Linked DNA regions of Homo sapiens. The protein of the gene in region 2 interacts with the protein of the main gene of each other region in a biochemical or structural test. Each region holds a gene or a part of one and is shown on either strand. Other genes may lie near its edges.

The links. The genes of interacting proteins can lie anywhere in the genome.
Region 1: the proteins of PEBP1 (region 2) and RAF1 form a complex in vitro, tested with the Homo sapiens proteins (3 studies listed by BioGRID and IntAct, with this or other methods).

The regions. Positions count from the first base shown.
Region 1 is NC_000003.12:12,598,118-12,605,150, forward strand, and holds part of RAF1 (RAF proto-oncogene serine/threonine-protein kinase), read right to left. Parts: intron 6,173-7,033; coding exon 6,019-6,172; intron 5,421-6,018; coding exon of another isoform or gene 5,361-5,420; intron 2,299-5,360; coding exon 2,271-2,298; intron 2,163-2,270; coding exon 2,035-2,162; intron 1,692-2,034; coding exon 1,574-1,691; intron 1,109-1,573; exon of another isoform or gene 996-1,108; intron 1-995. UniProt on the Homo sapiens protein: Serine/threonine-protein kinase that acts as a regulatory link between the membrane-associated Ras GTPases and the MAPK/ERK cascade, and this critical regulatory link functions as a switch determining cell fate decisions including proliferation, differentiation, apoptosis, survival and oncogenic transformation.
Region 2 is NC_000012.12:118,139,101-118,146,094, reverse strand, and holds the end of PEBP1 (phosphatidylethanolamine-binding protein 1), read right to left. Parts: intron 6,645-6,994; coding exon 6,544-6,644; intron 1,510-6,543; coding exon 1,292-1,509; 3' UTR 511-1,291; downstream 1-510.

The DNA.
Region 1 (7,033 bases), on a different chromosome or scaffold from region 2:
AAGCAATCTTCCTGCCTCAGCCTTCCAAGTAGCTGGGACTACAGGCGAGTGCCATCACATCTACCTAATTTTTGGTAGAGATGGGGTTTCACGATGTTGCCCAAGCTGTTCTTGAACTCCTAGGCTCAAGTGTTCTGCCTGCCTCAGCCTCCCAAAGTGCTGGGATGACAGGCGTGAGCCACCCTGCCCAGCCAGATGCAATTTTCAAAGGAAAAGGAATCATTCCACATGTACTTTACAAATGTTCAGTCGGGTGCCAATCCTCTTAAGGAACTAGAAATTGGTCAGATGATTAATTACAAGTGGTAAAAACCATGCATTAACGAGCACATGGTAAGGCTGGGCACAGTGGCTCATGCCTGTAATCCCAGCATTTTGAGAGACCCAAGAGGACTGCTTGAGTCCAGGAGTTGGAGACCAGCCTGGGCAACATAGTGAGACCTTGTCTCTACAAAAGGTAAAACAAATTAGCTGGGCATTCACCTGTGGTCCCAGCTACTTGGGAGGCTTAGGCAGGAGGACTGTTTGAGCCCAAGAGTTGGAGGCTGCAGTGAGCTGTGATTGTGCCACTGTACTCCAGCCTGGGCAACAGAGCAAGAATCTATCTCAAAAAAAAAAAAAAAAAAAAAAAAAAAACCACCAAGTACTCAAAACTGGAGGTGTTTGATATTTTCAGTACCTTGAATTTTAATACTCCATTCATTTGATGCTTTTAACTTCTCTCAATCTTTGCACATTTATCTCTAAAGATAATTCCAGTGTCATCCAAAGTAGTATAGGCACCAAGGGACTCTGTGATTTTTGCTTTATTGTAATCTGAATTTAGAAGAGATGACTTTTTGGGAACATGCAGCATTTTCAAGGAAATACCTATTATTTCCCAAAGTCCTAAAGCCAGAGGCATTAAAAACCTAACAGAGAAATGCTAAGTATGTTGCCAAAATGTTCAGTGTTGCCAAAATACACAAGCTGTAACTACATAAGTTAAATAGTACCTTTCTTCCAAGTGACAAAGTGTTTCCATTAAAATCAGAACATTAATATTCCACATAGATTCAAGAATTAAGTCAATGCCTTCCCTGTTTGATAGGGACACCCACAGCTAATCCTAGGGCAGGACAAAGAGAAGTTACTTCAGGAGATTTCCAGCTTTCCTATGCCTAACTGCATGACCATGGGCAAATCAGTCCCCATTTCAATCTCTAAGGTCCTTTCCAGCTTAAAGTTTCTAGAACCCATGCTCCCTCCATAGCAGCAGACTCTTGCTCACTTAAGGAGCTTCCAAGCATGACCCATGTGCAGACTGTATTTAATCAGTTTAAAGGAGAAGTACTCCTGACATTTGATTATAGGGCTCAAGTCTTATTCACTAATTTCTAATTATCCTGGGAGCTTTATAAGAACTTAGTCTAAAAAGAATTAAGTTCAATCTTCAGGTATAATCAAGTATGTAAGGGAGAGTACTGCTATAAGCCCAGGAGCACTCAGTCCTCTCCTCCTCCTGGCCCCCTGGGCTGAAACTTGACTTCACACCAAAGCCCTGCAGTTAGTAAAGGGAGGGCCCCAAGCTTACCGTGCCATTTACCCTTATAAACAGTTCCAAAAGAGCCTGACCCAATCCGAGTGGACAGCATCACTTCACTGGCTTCTATTTCCCAATAATAGCTTGAATCTCTCTGTCCACGAGGCCTCTGAAACAAGTAGAGATCATTATTATACTCCATGCAATGGTAATAATCTTTTGATAATGAGGGCATCAAAGGATCAACCCATGTCATCTGTTTCCATATCTTTTAAAGATAAACATATTAACCATACTTCCAATTTTTGTCTTTTGAGAAATACCATTTTAGTTATAGCACTGGCAAACTGTCTGATGCAAGTGTGCCAAAAATGACAGTAACATTTATAATCTCCTTCATTGAATGTATTTTATTAGAATCTTCTCCCAAAATAAGTTTAAGTATTCTAATTTCCAACGAGGTTTTTCTTACTGAACCCTAATTGGCAGGAGGTACTGTTGTCTATACTCACAATTTTGTTTTTCTCCTGGGTCCCAGATACTGGTGCCCGCTCTCTTTGTGCTGGCACGGGGGTTTTCGGCTGTGACCAGCCTGTTGGGCTCAGATTGTTGGGGCTACTGGACAGGGCTGAAGGTGAGGCTTAATAGACAAGACAAACAGAAGCCACACAAGGATAAGCCAACAGAAGATACACCGCATAAAGAAAAAAAGCCCATTATTGTTGGCTAAATGACTATGGAAAAGTACCTGATTCGCTGTGACTTCGAATTGCATCCTGAAACAGAAAAGGAAAGCTGGTCAACTCCTACACACAAAAGATTTTCTCTGGGGGAGGGAAAAAAGAGGAGGAGGATGTGCAAGAACAAAATAGATTATAAAAACCTCTAAAAACCATAGAAATCCTAAACATACTCTAATCAACGTTCCTTGATTAAATTCAGCAAATATCAGTGGCCAGTATCTCCAAGGCTGATTTTTCATTAAATATTAGAAGGATTTAATATTCCACCTCCCAGGTTCAAGCAATTCTCCTGCCTCAGTCTCCCGAGTAGCTGGGATTACAGGTGTGCACCAGCACGCCCGGCTAATTTTTGCATTTTTAGTAGAGACAGGGCTTCGCCATGTTGGCCAGGCTCGTCTTGAACTCCTGACCTGAGGTGATCCTCTCGCCTCGGCCTCCCAAAGTGCTGGGATTACAGGCGTGAGCCACCGTGCCAAGCCTGGTATTAGTTTTTCATATATAATGAAAACCACATTCTTTTTCTCAAAAGAAAGCAATGTACACAACAAACATACTCTTTCAAGGGAAGCTAGCAAAGTTACTCTCAGCTGAGACCCTTCCAAAGATTGGGATTCTTGTTCCACTGAGGCTCAAAACTTTTTTTAAAAAGCCAGGGTGGGGAGGTGGATTCTGGGGGAAGCTCACTCTTACTCCACAAGGAGTTAGGCTAAATTGACTAGAAGTTGGATTTGAAAAAGGTAAGCAGCCTATATACTTTATCCAAGCCTAAAATCACAGAAAGCTGGAAAGACCACAAATCCAAGTTCAAAACCTACATTTTACATATAAGAAAACACATCTGAACAGGTAGAGAGACTTGGCAGGGTCACTTGGCAGAACCAGTAGGTGGCAGAAATAGAACCAGAAACCATCATATATGGATCTCAGCCCTCAGCTCTTTCACCACAAAACACTGCCTTATGGGTAAATTTGGAAATCGGTTACATTCTCCTCATGGGAGAAAGCAAAGGCTATCTTTAGAATTTATTAGAAACTGTTTGGAAAATAGTTTAAATTGCAGAGGGCTCTATGAGACCTAAACCCCAATCTAAAATTCATCGCTTGGAATAGAACAGTATAATAGAATAATATAAAACCACTTGGCCCCCATATCCTAAAAAAGGACATTTTTTGGGGGGAAGTCCTACTATATTCTCTTTGTGTAACTACAGTATAGACAAGATACTTGTTCCACACAACTATTACTAGAATGCTCCCACTCAATTATATAAAAAGATAAAATTATATATCTAATTATATAATTAGATAAAAAGAATCAAACCAAGCTGTTCCCCTGCTCCCAAAACATAATTCGGAATTTAACAAGAAAGCCTAGTTCTGGTTCCCAAAACTAGCTAGTCTTCAGAATTACCTGGAGAGTGATTCTGACTCTGGAAAGAAGAATGAAGATCCACCCCTAATCCCCGACCCACGATTGACTGAGCATGTTTTGGAGGGGAATGTGAGAAGTCCAGGAATGTGTGTTTTTAAGTACAGCAGGATAACTGCCAGGTGGGCAAAACACTGGCAAAAAATAATGTGGATTTCAATAGAAATCGGCAGCTGTAATTTCATTATCCAACTAAGCTGTTCTTTGTTTTTAAAGCAAAGCACAATTTATTTTTATTAACCACAATTATATTCCTATGTAGCAGAATATTTTCCTTAATGTTATGGTAATTTTCTTCCCTGTATCAATTAAATATCCCATATTTTATTCTGTGCTAATTTCTATAGTTGGATCAATTTATTCTAGAAAGAATTTTCCTATTGTTCCTGGAGTCTAAATACTCAAGAGAACTATGAATAATTTGAGACCCACAAATAATTTGAATAAAGCAACAATTAGTCTACTTTAAAAATGCTGACTTATATGTGATTAAATTAACAGGAATCAAAATTTACCCTGCTTCTAAAGTAAAAAATGATTAGGCACAACAATTGTGCTAATTCTTTTATAATAAAAACTCAAAAATTCTTACTTGACACAATCATACACAGCTCACTACAACCTCAAACTCCTGGGCTCAAGTAATCCTCCTGCCCAAGCCTCCTGAGTAACTAGGACTGCAGGTGCACACCACCAAGCCCAGCTAATTTTTACATTTTTTTTTGTAGAGGTGGGGTTTTGCTACATATAGCCCAGGTAGGTCTTGAACTCCTGGTCGCAAGTGATCTTCCCACCCAGCCAATTCTGACCTTTACTGTTCCCTGTAAGTATTACAGTGTTCATACAGGAACAAACCATTTAATAGAAGTAGCAGTAACTGGTATATTATTGTATTATCAGGACTAATCATAATGATAAAGTCAAAATAATAAAATTTATAGCTTATACATGATCTCCTCACAATAGTGGCAGGACAATTATGTTGAAAGTGATTTGAGGTCTGAATGAGATAAACTGTGCCTAAGGCAGCAGGTGTCTACATGATGAGAGAGAGCATAGTTGTCTCTGATAAGCTTTCAATAAAGAATATTTATTCTAGGGTTTATCAACCAAAAACACATTTGGTTACTAATGTATAAACAGAATACCAATGCTGTGAGCACCAACTAAGTAAGTCTAACATTAGCCTTTGGTTGGAATTGATTTAAAAAAAAAACTTTTTAATGCCCTTGGCCTCAAAATCTAACTTAACATTTTTTGTTTGTTTTTAAGGTGGATTCTTATTATGTTGCCCCAGTTGGAGTGCAATGGCTATTCACAGGCACAATTGTAGCTCCCTACAGCCTAGAACTTCTGGGCTCCAGTGATCCTCCTGCCTTAGCCTCTGGAGTAGCTGGGACAACAGACATACACCGTCATGCCTGGCCTAACTTCAGAAATTCATTTCACCTATCATCAATACCACATACAACATTTTTTTTACTTCTATATACTCTACTGCCAAAAAAAATTTTAAAAAGAAAGAAAGAAAAAGAAAACATGGAAACAAGTGACAAGAAATATAAATTTAACTTAGCAACTATTTCATTTTTGGTAGTCTGCTGTCTGACAGTTTTAGCAATCCTGTTAATTACAAGAAAGCAAAGGCATGAAGAAAAATACCTACTCTTCCCCTCAAACAAAATCGTCTGGACCACGCCCTGGGAGAAGCACTCAGGTTGTTATTCTAGTCCAAAGCAATGAGAAATAAAGAAGAATAAAGAACAAAGGAAGTATTTAAGTGTATTCAGTTGTTATTAAAGATGAAGCAGAAAGCAAATTAAACCAATAGGACATAACCAAAAAGCCAAGAGAAGAAAAAGCAGTTCAAAAACACTAGCTTTGGGCACTTTGACATCTCCCCAAACACCTGCTTATTAAAGTCCTAGGACTCCACCCTTTTATTTCTAAATAAAATCACAAAAGTCTTCCAGAGAATCTGTAGTTCTCCATCACTGTTAATTTCTGTCCCACACCAAAACTAAACTGCTCTTTAAATATCTTAGACACTTGTTCATTAATAGCCTATTCAAATCTGATAATGGGAAGAGTTCAAATGTTAACATTTTTTCAGGAAGTTTTAGTTCTCCAGTTGAATGATATACTAACCAGACTATTCAGCCAGTCTGAAGATATTATGGATATAAAATAAACTGTAAAAGTCCAGAGACCTGAGAAAGTGTTGCAACATTCCTTGATCAGATTTGAAACCCAAAACTCTGAAATAAGTATCAACCTCACCCCATTAATTGACTGACATTACCACCCCCAAGGTGCCCTATTACCTCAATCATCCTGCTGTCCACAGGCAGGGTGGTGCTGACCATGTGGACATTAGGTGTGGATGTCGACCTCTGCCTCTGGGAGAGGGAACCTTCAGATGAGGGACTGGAGGTGTTAAAGGTGAAGGCGTGAGGTGTAGAATATCTGTGCTGAGAACTAGGAGGAGAAAGAAAATTCCATGATTGGCACTTAGGCTTTCATACTGGTGAAGTCTTTCAAGTACATATTTGACTAAGTAAGATGCTTAAGGGCAAACTCTACCTGTACAACCTTTGACAAAATGTTTGATTCTTTCAAATGTGTGACATCTAAAAATTATCTTAAGTCTAGGTGCTTTTGCATACAAAATTTGGAACAGGAAATAATATATGTATTGGGAATTCAATGAAAAGGAGAGTGCATTATAAGTTTTCTTTTTTTAAATAAAGCACCACTCTACTCCAAATTTTTACAACATCTCCAGGAAAGAACAGATTAACATTTGACAACCACGCTACCACCTATTAAGCTAGTTGGAACACGCCCAGTTTAGAGACTAAATTTGAGAATTTATTTAAACAGATAAGTAGACGTGCTGAGCATGTCTGTAAAAAGGCCAGGATTTTACCCTCTGTTTGTCCTTACCTGCTACAACCAGCAAACAAAGTAAATAAATGGGAATTCAGTTTTTAGATGGAAATACCTAAATGTGAAATTAACCACTGGCCTCTTCCAGTCACCACCAACCCCCACCAACCAAACTGGGAACATGCATTAAGAGGTATAACATTTTCATTATTTGCTCTAAAGATTCGTTCGAGGTTTGTTCAGATTCAGGTAACACCCATGTATGAATTAAAGGGAAAAAGGCCAGCTTTTCTAAGGGAAATTGTTCTATTGTCTTGAAAAAAATGCCTTCCCACATAATCCTCTGTTTTATGGCTTCAGAGGCCTGGTTTCTTCTAATCTTCAGAGGTAACTACAAATTCTTGGTCAGATTTGCTTTTCAAATTATCAAGAAAAATAAAAGCCATACAG
Region 2 (6,994 bases):
CCAAATCACAGTGATTTGCACCTTCAAACACCTCCTTTCCTTTCTTTCGGTACATCAGATGGCATGAGACCGTGACCTTCTCACCCTCCTACCCTGCGCACCTCTTTGGTACTGAGCCTCTGTGGATAACACATCAGAACGGGAAGTGCAGGCTACTTCTTAGGCATTGTTACGGTGTCCGCGCCAGACTTCACCAAGGGGGAAGGTTTTCAGCCATCTTCTTTAGAACATCCTTCTTGGGTCAAAAGGACCACTTGAAGCAAAGGTGCTTTTTGGGCAATAAGACTCGGCCTCACATTTTATGATTTTTTTTTTAGAAACCTCAAATCTGAACTGTTTGCTCCTGCTGTGGGTTAATGGCACATGTAGAGGCACAGACCCTCCATATGGCCCCTAGAACAAGTCCCAGCTGTTACTTGCTGGTCACGGAGACGACTCACCCTGAGACTTGACTTCTCACACTTATGAAACCTATACCCAATAGAACAAAACATCCGGGGACTCAGTTCCTTCATTCAGGTTTCTATTTTTATTCAACTACAAGCAAACAGCACAATTAATGCAACATTCAGCAACTCCAGACCAGCTTTTCTTACCCCCATGAAGAACGATCAATTTAAAAAACACAGATCTCAGGTTTCCTCCCAAGCTGTCAGCGAGCGCTGCTACCGGTCTAGATTGCCATGTCCCAACAACAGCAAAGCCACCCTCCCTCCTGCTTCTTCCAGGATTGCTCTTTAAAGGGACCAGAGTGACATACTGATGCCTACTGAGGCATCTGAGATGCACTGTGTTGGAGGTTAGCCTCAATGCCAGCCTCTGGTTGTCTAGGTGAGTGACATCACCATAAAATCACATTGTGTACCATTCTGGACTCAGGATCACAAAGGCAGAGGCAACCAATCTTTTTTTTTTTTTTTTTTTTTAAACCTCCCTTAAAGATTCTTTGATGCTTTGCTCTATCACTGTAGACCTGGTCTTTTTCCCCCCAGTTTTTTCTTTTTTACATTCTGGGTTGCTATTTTCAGATTAATAATTTGATGACCCCATCACAGTACCAAAATACCCCCCAAAATGAAGTTCAAATTTGATCAAAACATAAATCAGAGTGAGTGAGTAAAATTATAAAGGCCAGGCAGCAGGAAAAGTCACCCTCAACTACCATCTGACTGGTCAGGTCTCACCCATGCCAAGGGGGGCAGGAAGAGGAGAAATCTATTATACATGCAACACTGAACTGGGGAACATGGCTTGGGGCCTCCAGGACAGTTCAGGTCCCCAAGCTAACCCCCTACTTCCCAGACAGCTGCTCGTACAGTTTGGGCACATAGTCATCCCACTCGGCCTGGTAACACGTGCCAGCCACCGGGGCCCTGAGCTCATACTTTTTACGGAAGGACGCCACCTTGAATTTGCCACGGTGGTCTCCAGATCGGTTGCTGAGGATGGGCTCGTCACACTTTAGCGGCCTGTCCTGCTCGTAAACCAGCCAGACATAGCGGTGGAGGCCTGTGGGGAGAGGCAGAGGGAAGATGTACACACAGCCCAGCACTTGAGATGGGGACATCATCCATTTTTATCGAATGTTTCAACATGGAGGCACCCAGACCACACCATTTACAAGGAGGACACCGAGGGTCCAGACAGGTATTTGGTGCAAATTAACATTTAATGGCAATTAACACATTAATGGCAAAAACCGCAATTACTTTTGCATCAACCTAATAGAATGTGTTAGGCCCCTGCTGTAACTGGTGTCAAGCCCAAGCCCTTAGTTCCAGCCTCTCCTGGCCTGTGGGATCTGGCCTCTGCACCCCCTTATCCTCGCCTCCCAACGAGCCTCTGTGCTCTTCATTCATCCCACTTCAGGCTCCCGGACCTTCTCAAGTCACCACCCACCACCCCCCATCAGAACACCCATTTCACTTCTGTCAGGTAGGAGCAACCAATTAAGGACAAAGCAAATCAATGACCCGGGCCCACCATACCACAGTCGAGCCTCTAGGATAAAGGAGAACATTTTCTTTCTACCTCCAAAATTTACTTGCTTAGAAAACTGGAGGACTACTTCGAAGTGACCCAACCTCACTTTAACTAAGCAGCTTTCTACAAGCTTCAATGATGTACTGGATGCAAATAGGTACCATGAGCTCTTATTTTTTTAAAAAGTGGGTTTTTTTTTTTTTTTTGAGACGGAGTCTCACTCTGTTGCCTAGGCGTGGAGTGCAGTGGCATGATCTCGGCTCACTACAACCTCAGCCTCCTGGGTTCAAGCAATTCTCCTGCCTCAGCCTCCTGAGTAGCTAGGATTACAGGTACGTGCCACCACGCCCAGTTATGTTTTGTTTTGTTTTGTTTTTGTATTTTTAGTAGAGACCAGGTTTCACCATGTTGGCAAAACTCCTGACCTCAAGTGATCCACCCATCTCGCCCTCCCAAAGTGCTGGGATTACAGCTGTGAGCCACTGCACCCGGCCAGAAACAAAGTTATTTTTTAAAAAGTTGTTTAAATATTTGCACACCCATGTTCAATGCAGCAGTATTCACAATAGCCAAGAAGCAGAAGCAACCCGACTGTCCACTGATGGATGAAAAGATGATCAGAATGTGGTTTATACACACAACAGAATATTATCCAGCCTTTTATTTTTTCTTTACTCCCCTGTGTTACTCTAGGACTATTCAGCCTTAAAAAGAAATTCAGACACATGCTACACCAGAGAACCTTGAGAACATTACATTAGTGAAATTAGCCAGTCGCAAGACAAATACTGTACAATTCCACGAGGTATCTAAAGTAGACAAACACTGCAACAGAAAGTGGAATGGTGGCTGCCAGGGCTAGGGGAAGGGAAATGGGGAGCTGTTGGTCAATGGGGACAGGGTTTCTGTTGGGGAAGATGAAAAATCTAGAGATCTGTTTCACAACAATGTGAATGTAGTGGTCGGGCATGGTAGCTCACATTTATAATCCCAGGACTTTGGGAGGCCAAGGTGGGAGGGTCACCTGAGCCCAGGAGGAATTTGAGACCAGCTTGGGCAATATGGCGAAACCCCGTCTCTACTAGAAATACAAAAATTTGCTGGATGTGGTAGGTAGCCTGTGCCTGTAGTCCCAGCTTCTCGGGAGCCTGAGGTAGGAGGGTTGCTTGAGCCCAGGAGGTGAGCTGAGCCCTGCAGTGAGCTGAAAACGTGCCACTGTGCTCCAGCCTAGGGGACAGAGTAAGACCCTATCTCAAAAAAAAAAAAAAAAAAAAAAAAAAAAAAAGTGAATGTAGTTAACGCTACTGTAGTGTACACTTAAAAATGGTTAAGATGGAGGGGGCGCAGTGGCTCACACCTGTAATCCCAGCACTTTGAGAGGCTAAGGCAGGTGGATCACTTGAGGTCAGGAATTTGAGACCAGCTTGGCCAAGATGGTGAAACCCCGTCTCTACTAAAAATATAAAAATTAGCCAGACATGGTGGCACGTGTCTGTAATCCTAGCTACCCAGGAGGCTGAGGTGGGAGGATCACTTGAACCTGGGAGGTGGAGGCTGAAGTGAGCTGAGATCACACCACTGCACTCCAGCCTCAAAAAAAGAGTTAAGATGGTAAATTTTGCCAGGCATGGTGGCTCTTGCCTGTAATCCCAGCACTTTGGGAGGCTGAGGTGGGCAGATCATCTGAGCTCAGGAGTTCAAGACCAGCCTGCCCAACATGGAGAAACCCTGTCTCTACTAAAAGTAAAAAAAATTAGCCGGGTGTGATGGTGGACACCTGTATTCCAGCTACTCGGGAGGCTGAGGCAGGAGAATCGCTTAAACCTGGGAGGTGGAGGTTGCAGTGAGCCGCGATCACACCATTGCACTCCAGCCTGGGTGACAGAGCAAGACTCTGTCTCAAGAAAAAAAAAAATTTAAAAAAAAAAAAAAAAAAAGAATGCATGGCAGCCACTCCACTTTGTTTCAGTGAGCTTGGCTACTTTAGGTATCTCATAGAATTGTACGGTATTTGTCTTTGTGTGACTGGCTCATTTCACTAACATAATGTTCCTCAGGGTTCATCCTGGTGTAGCATGTGCCCAAATTTCTTTTCAAAGCTAAATAGTCCTAGAATAATACACAGAAGTTTAAACAAAAAGACTGGATAATATTTGGATATTTCTTCATAATATCCAAATACTGGAAACATCCCAAATGCCCATCAATAGAGAATGGCTAAACAAACTGGCCTGTTCACCAACGGGAATATTACTGAGCAATAAAAAGGGGTAACTATTGATACAATCTATGGACCAATCTCACAGATATTATCTGGAATGAAGCAGACCAGTCACCCAAATTTTTTAAAATACACATTGCATGATACTTTTTTTTTGGAGGCAGAGGCTTGCTCTATCGCCCAGGCTAGAGCGCAATGGCACAATCTCAGCTCACTGCAACCTCCACCTCCCGGGTTCAAGCCATCCTCCCACCTCAGCCCCACAGGTGGCTGGGACTACAGACGTATGCCACCATGCCTGGATAATTTTTGTATTTTTGGTAGAGACAGAGTTGTACCATGTTGGCCAGGCCGGTCTTGAATTCCTGGCTTCAAGTGATCCAACTGCCTCCACCTCCCAACATGCTGGGATTATAGGCGTGAGCCACCGTGCCTGGTCCATGATACCATTATATGAACACAAGAATAGCGAAAGTGGCTGGACACAGTGGCTCACGCCTGTAATCCCAGCACTTTGGGAGGCCAAGGCGGGCGGATCACAAGGTCAGAAGTTCGAGACCAGCCTGGCCAACATGGTGAAACCTTGACTCTACTAAAAATACAAAAATTAGCTGGGCGTGGTGGTGGGCGCCTGTCATCCCAGCTACTCAGGAGGCTGAGGCAGAAGAATCATTTGAACACAGGAGGTAGAGGTTGTAGTGAGCCGAGATCACGCCATTGCACTCCAGCCTGGGAGACAGAGCGAGACTCCATCTCAGAAAAAAAAAAAAGAATAGTGAAAGTGATTTATGGAGACAGGAGTCAGAATATGGTTAGCTCTGGGGGAATTTAAGTAAAAAGGTCACATGAGAATGTCGTTGGGCGATGGAAATGTCATCTGTCTTTCCAATGGCTGCTACCTTCCATGGGTGTATGCATTGATCACATTTGCTGACTGAACCCTTCCGATCTGTGGATTTTGTTACCATGTAAATTATACCATATTACAAGAATATGGAAAAAACAACAAGAAAATGAGTTACTGAGGCTTTTTTAAAAATGAGAACACAGCTCTGCCGGGCGCAGTGGCTCACGCCTGTAATCCCAACACTTTGGGAGACCGAGGCAGGTAGATCACAAGGTCAGGAGATTGAGACCATCCTGGCTAACACGGTGAAACCCCGTCTCTACTAAAAATGCATAAAATTAGCCAGGCATGGTGGCGGACACCTGTAGTCCCAGCTACTCGGGAGGCTGAGGCAGGAGAATGGCATGAACCGGGGAGGTGGAGCTTGCAGTGAGCGAGATCGTGCCACTGCACTCCAGCCTGGGAGACAGAGCAAGACTCCATCTCAAAAAAAAAAAATGAGAACACAGCTCTTACTTGAGAGAATTGCCTTATTCTCATGGGTAAGCTTCCCATAATTAACCTGCCTAATTTTATAACTGCCCTAGAGAACTTACTAGGTCCCTGGGAAATCTGTCCCTTTACCATCTACTATGCATGCGTGAGAGGGTTTAAAGGCATCTGAAGCTTCCGGGTCTACAGAGAAACCATGAGCCCATGACCAACTGTCCATGTCAGAGATGTTCTTGTACCTCTTCATGTTAACTCCTGGCTGGATAAGCTGTACAAAAAGCTAGGATTATGACAGTTCCACCAAATGGAAACATCCTGAACTGAACACCAGGCAATAAGAATGCATATCTCACCATCAGCTTAGGTGGCACTTACCCAACCTGGAAAGTTTCAATACGGTGGGCTTTCTCTTTCTATCTCTAAATATCTACATGTATTTTATATATAATAGCTATAACACGATACTACACAATACAATGTGTGTGTGTGTGTGTGCGCCTTCAATATAGTTCTACTGAAGTCTTCCAAATCTGTTTTCAATATACCCAGCTAGACTTTTTCAGAAACAAATACAGAAAGCAACCTTATATAGTTAATTTGGAAACTATGATCATTTCTGAAATGTTTTAAAGAAACTCAAAGATCACCCCGGGCAAAGGCTTGAGATAGTTTAACTGTGTATTCCACTCACTGCAGCCCCAAAAGGCCATGCTAAGCTTTCTGCAACAGTGCTTCCCTCTCACCAACTTCCCTGCTTGCTAAAGGGCTAGGGGTGCAGAGACAGCTCTACACAAAGGGTCCGTCTGTCCAGAACCCAAGGCTCTAGCCACCTGACACTGCTGCAGGTCTGAATGTGTGCCCTGAAGGCAGCTGCCCTAGAGGTAAGCTGAGATGCTATTTCCAGCAGGGTTAAGGGCTCTCAAAAGAAAAGCATTGGGTCAATCCTAATGTGCCCCCGAGCTCCCTCCCCAACCTCCCACCAAAAACAACCTTTACTAACCTGTGCCCTTGGGAGGCCCCGAGCCCACATAATCGGAGAGGACTGTGCCACTGCTGATGTCATTGCCCTTCATGTTGACCACCAGGAAATGATGCCATTCTCTGCATGAAGAAACACGGGATGTCAGCACCACAGGAGATCAGGGAACATTCACTGCACAGTCAGCAACTGGGCATCAAGAACATGCTGGCTGCCACAACACAGCCACGAACAACAGTCCTTTCTTTTTTTTTTTTTTTTGAGACAGAGTCTCACTCTGTCACCCAGGCTGGAATGCAGTGGCACGATCTCGGCTCACTGCAAGCTCCTCCTCCTGGGCTCAAGCAATTCTCTGCCTCAGGCTCCCAAGTAGCTGGGATTACAGGCGCCTGCCATCATGCCTGGCTAATTTTCGTATTTTTAGTAGAGACGGGGTTTCACCATGTTGGCCAGACTGGTCTTGAACTCCTGA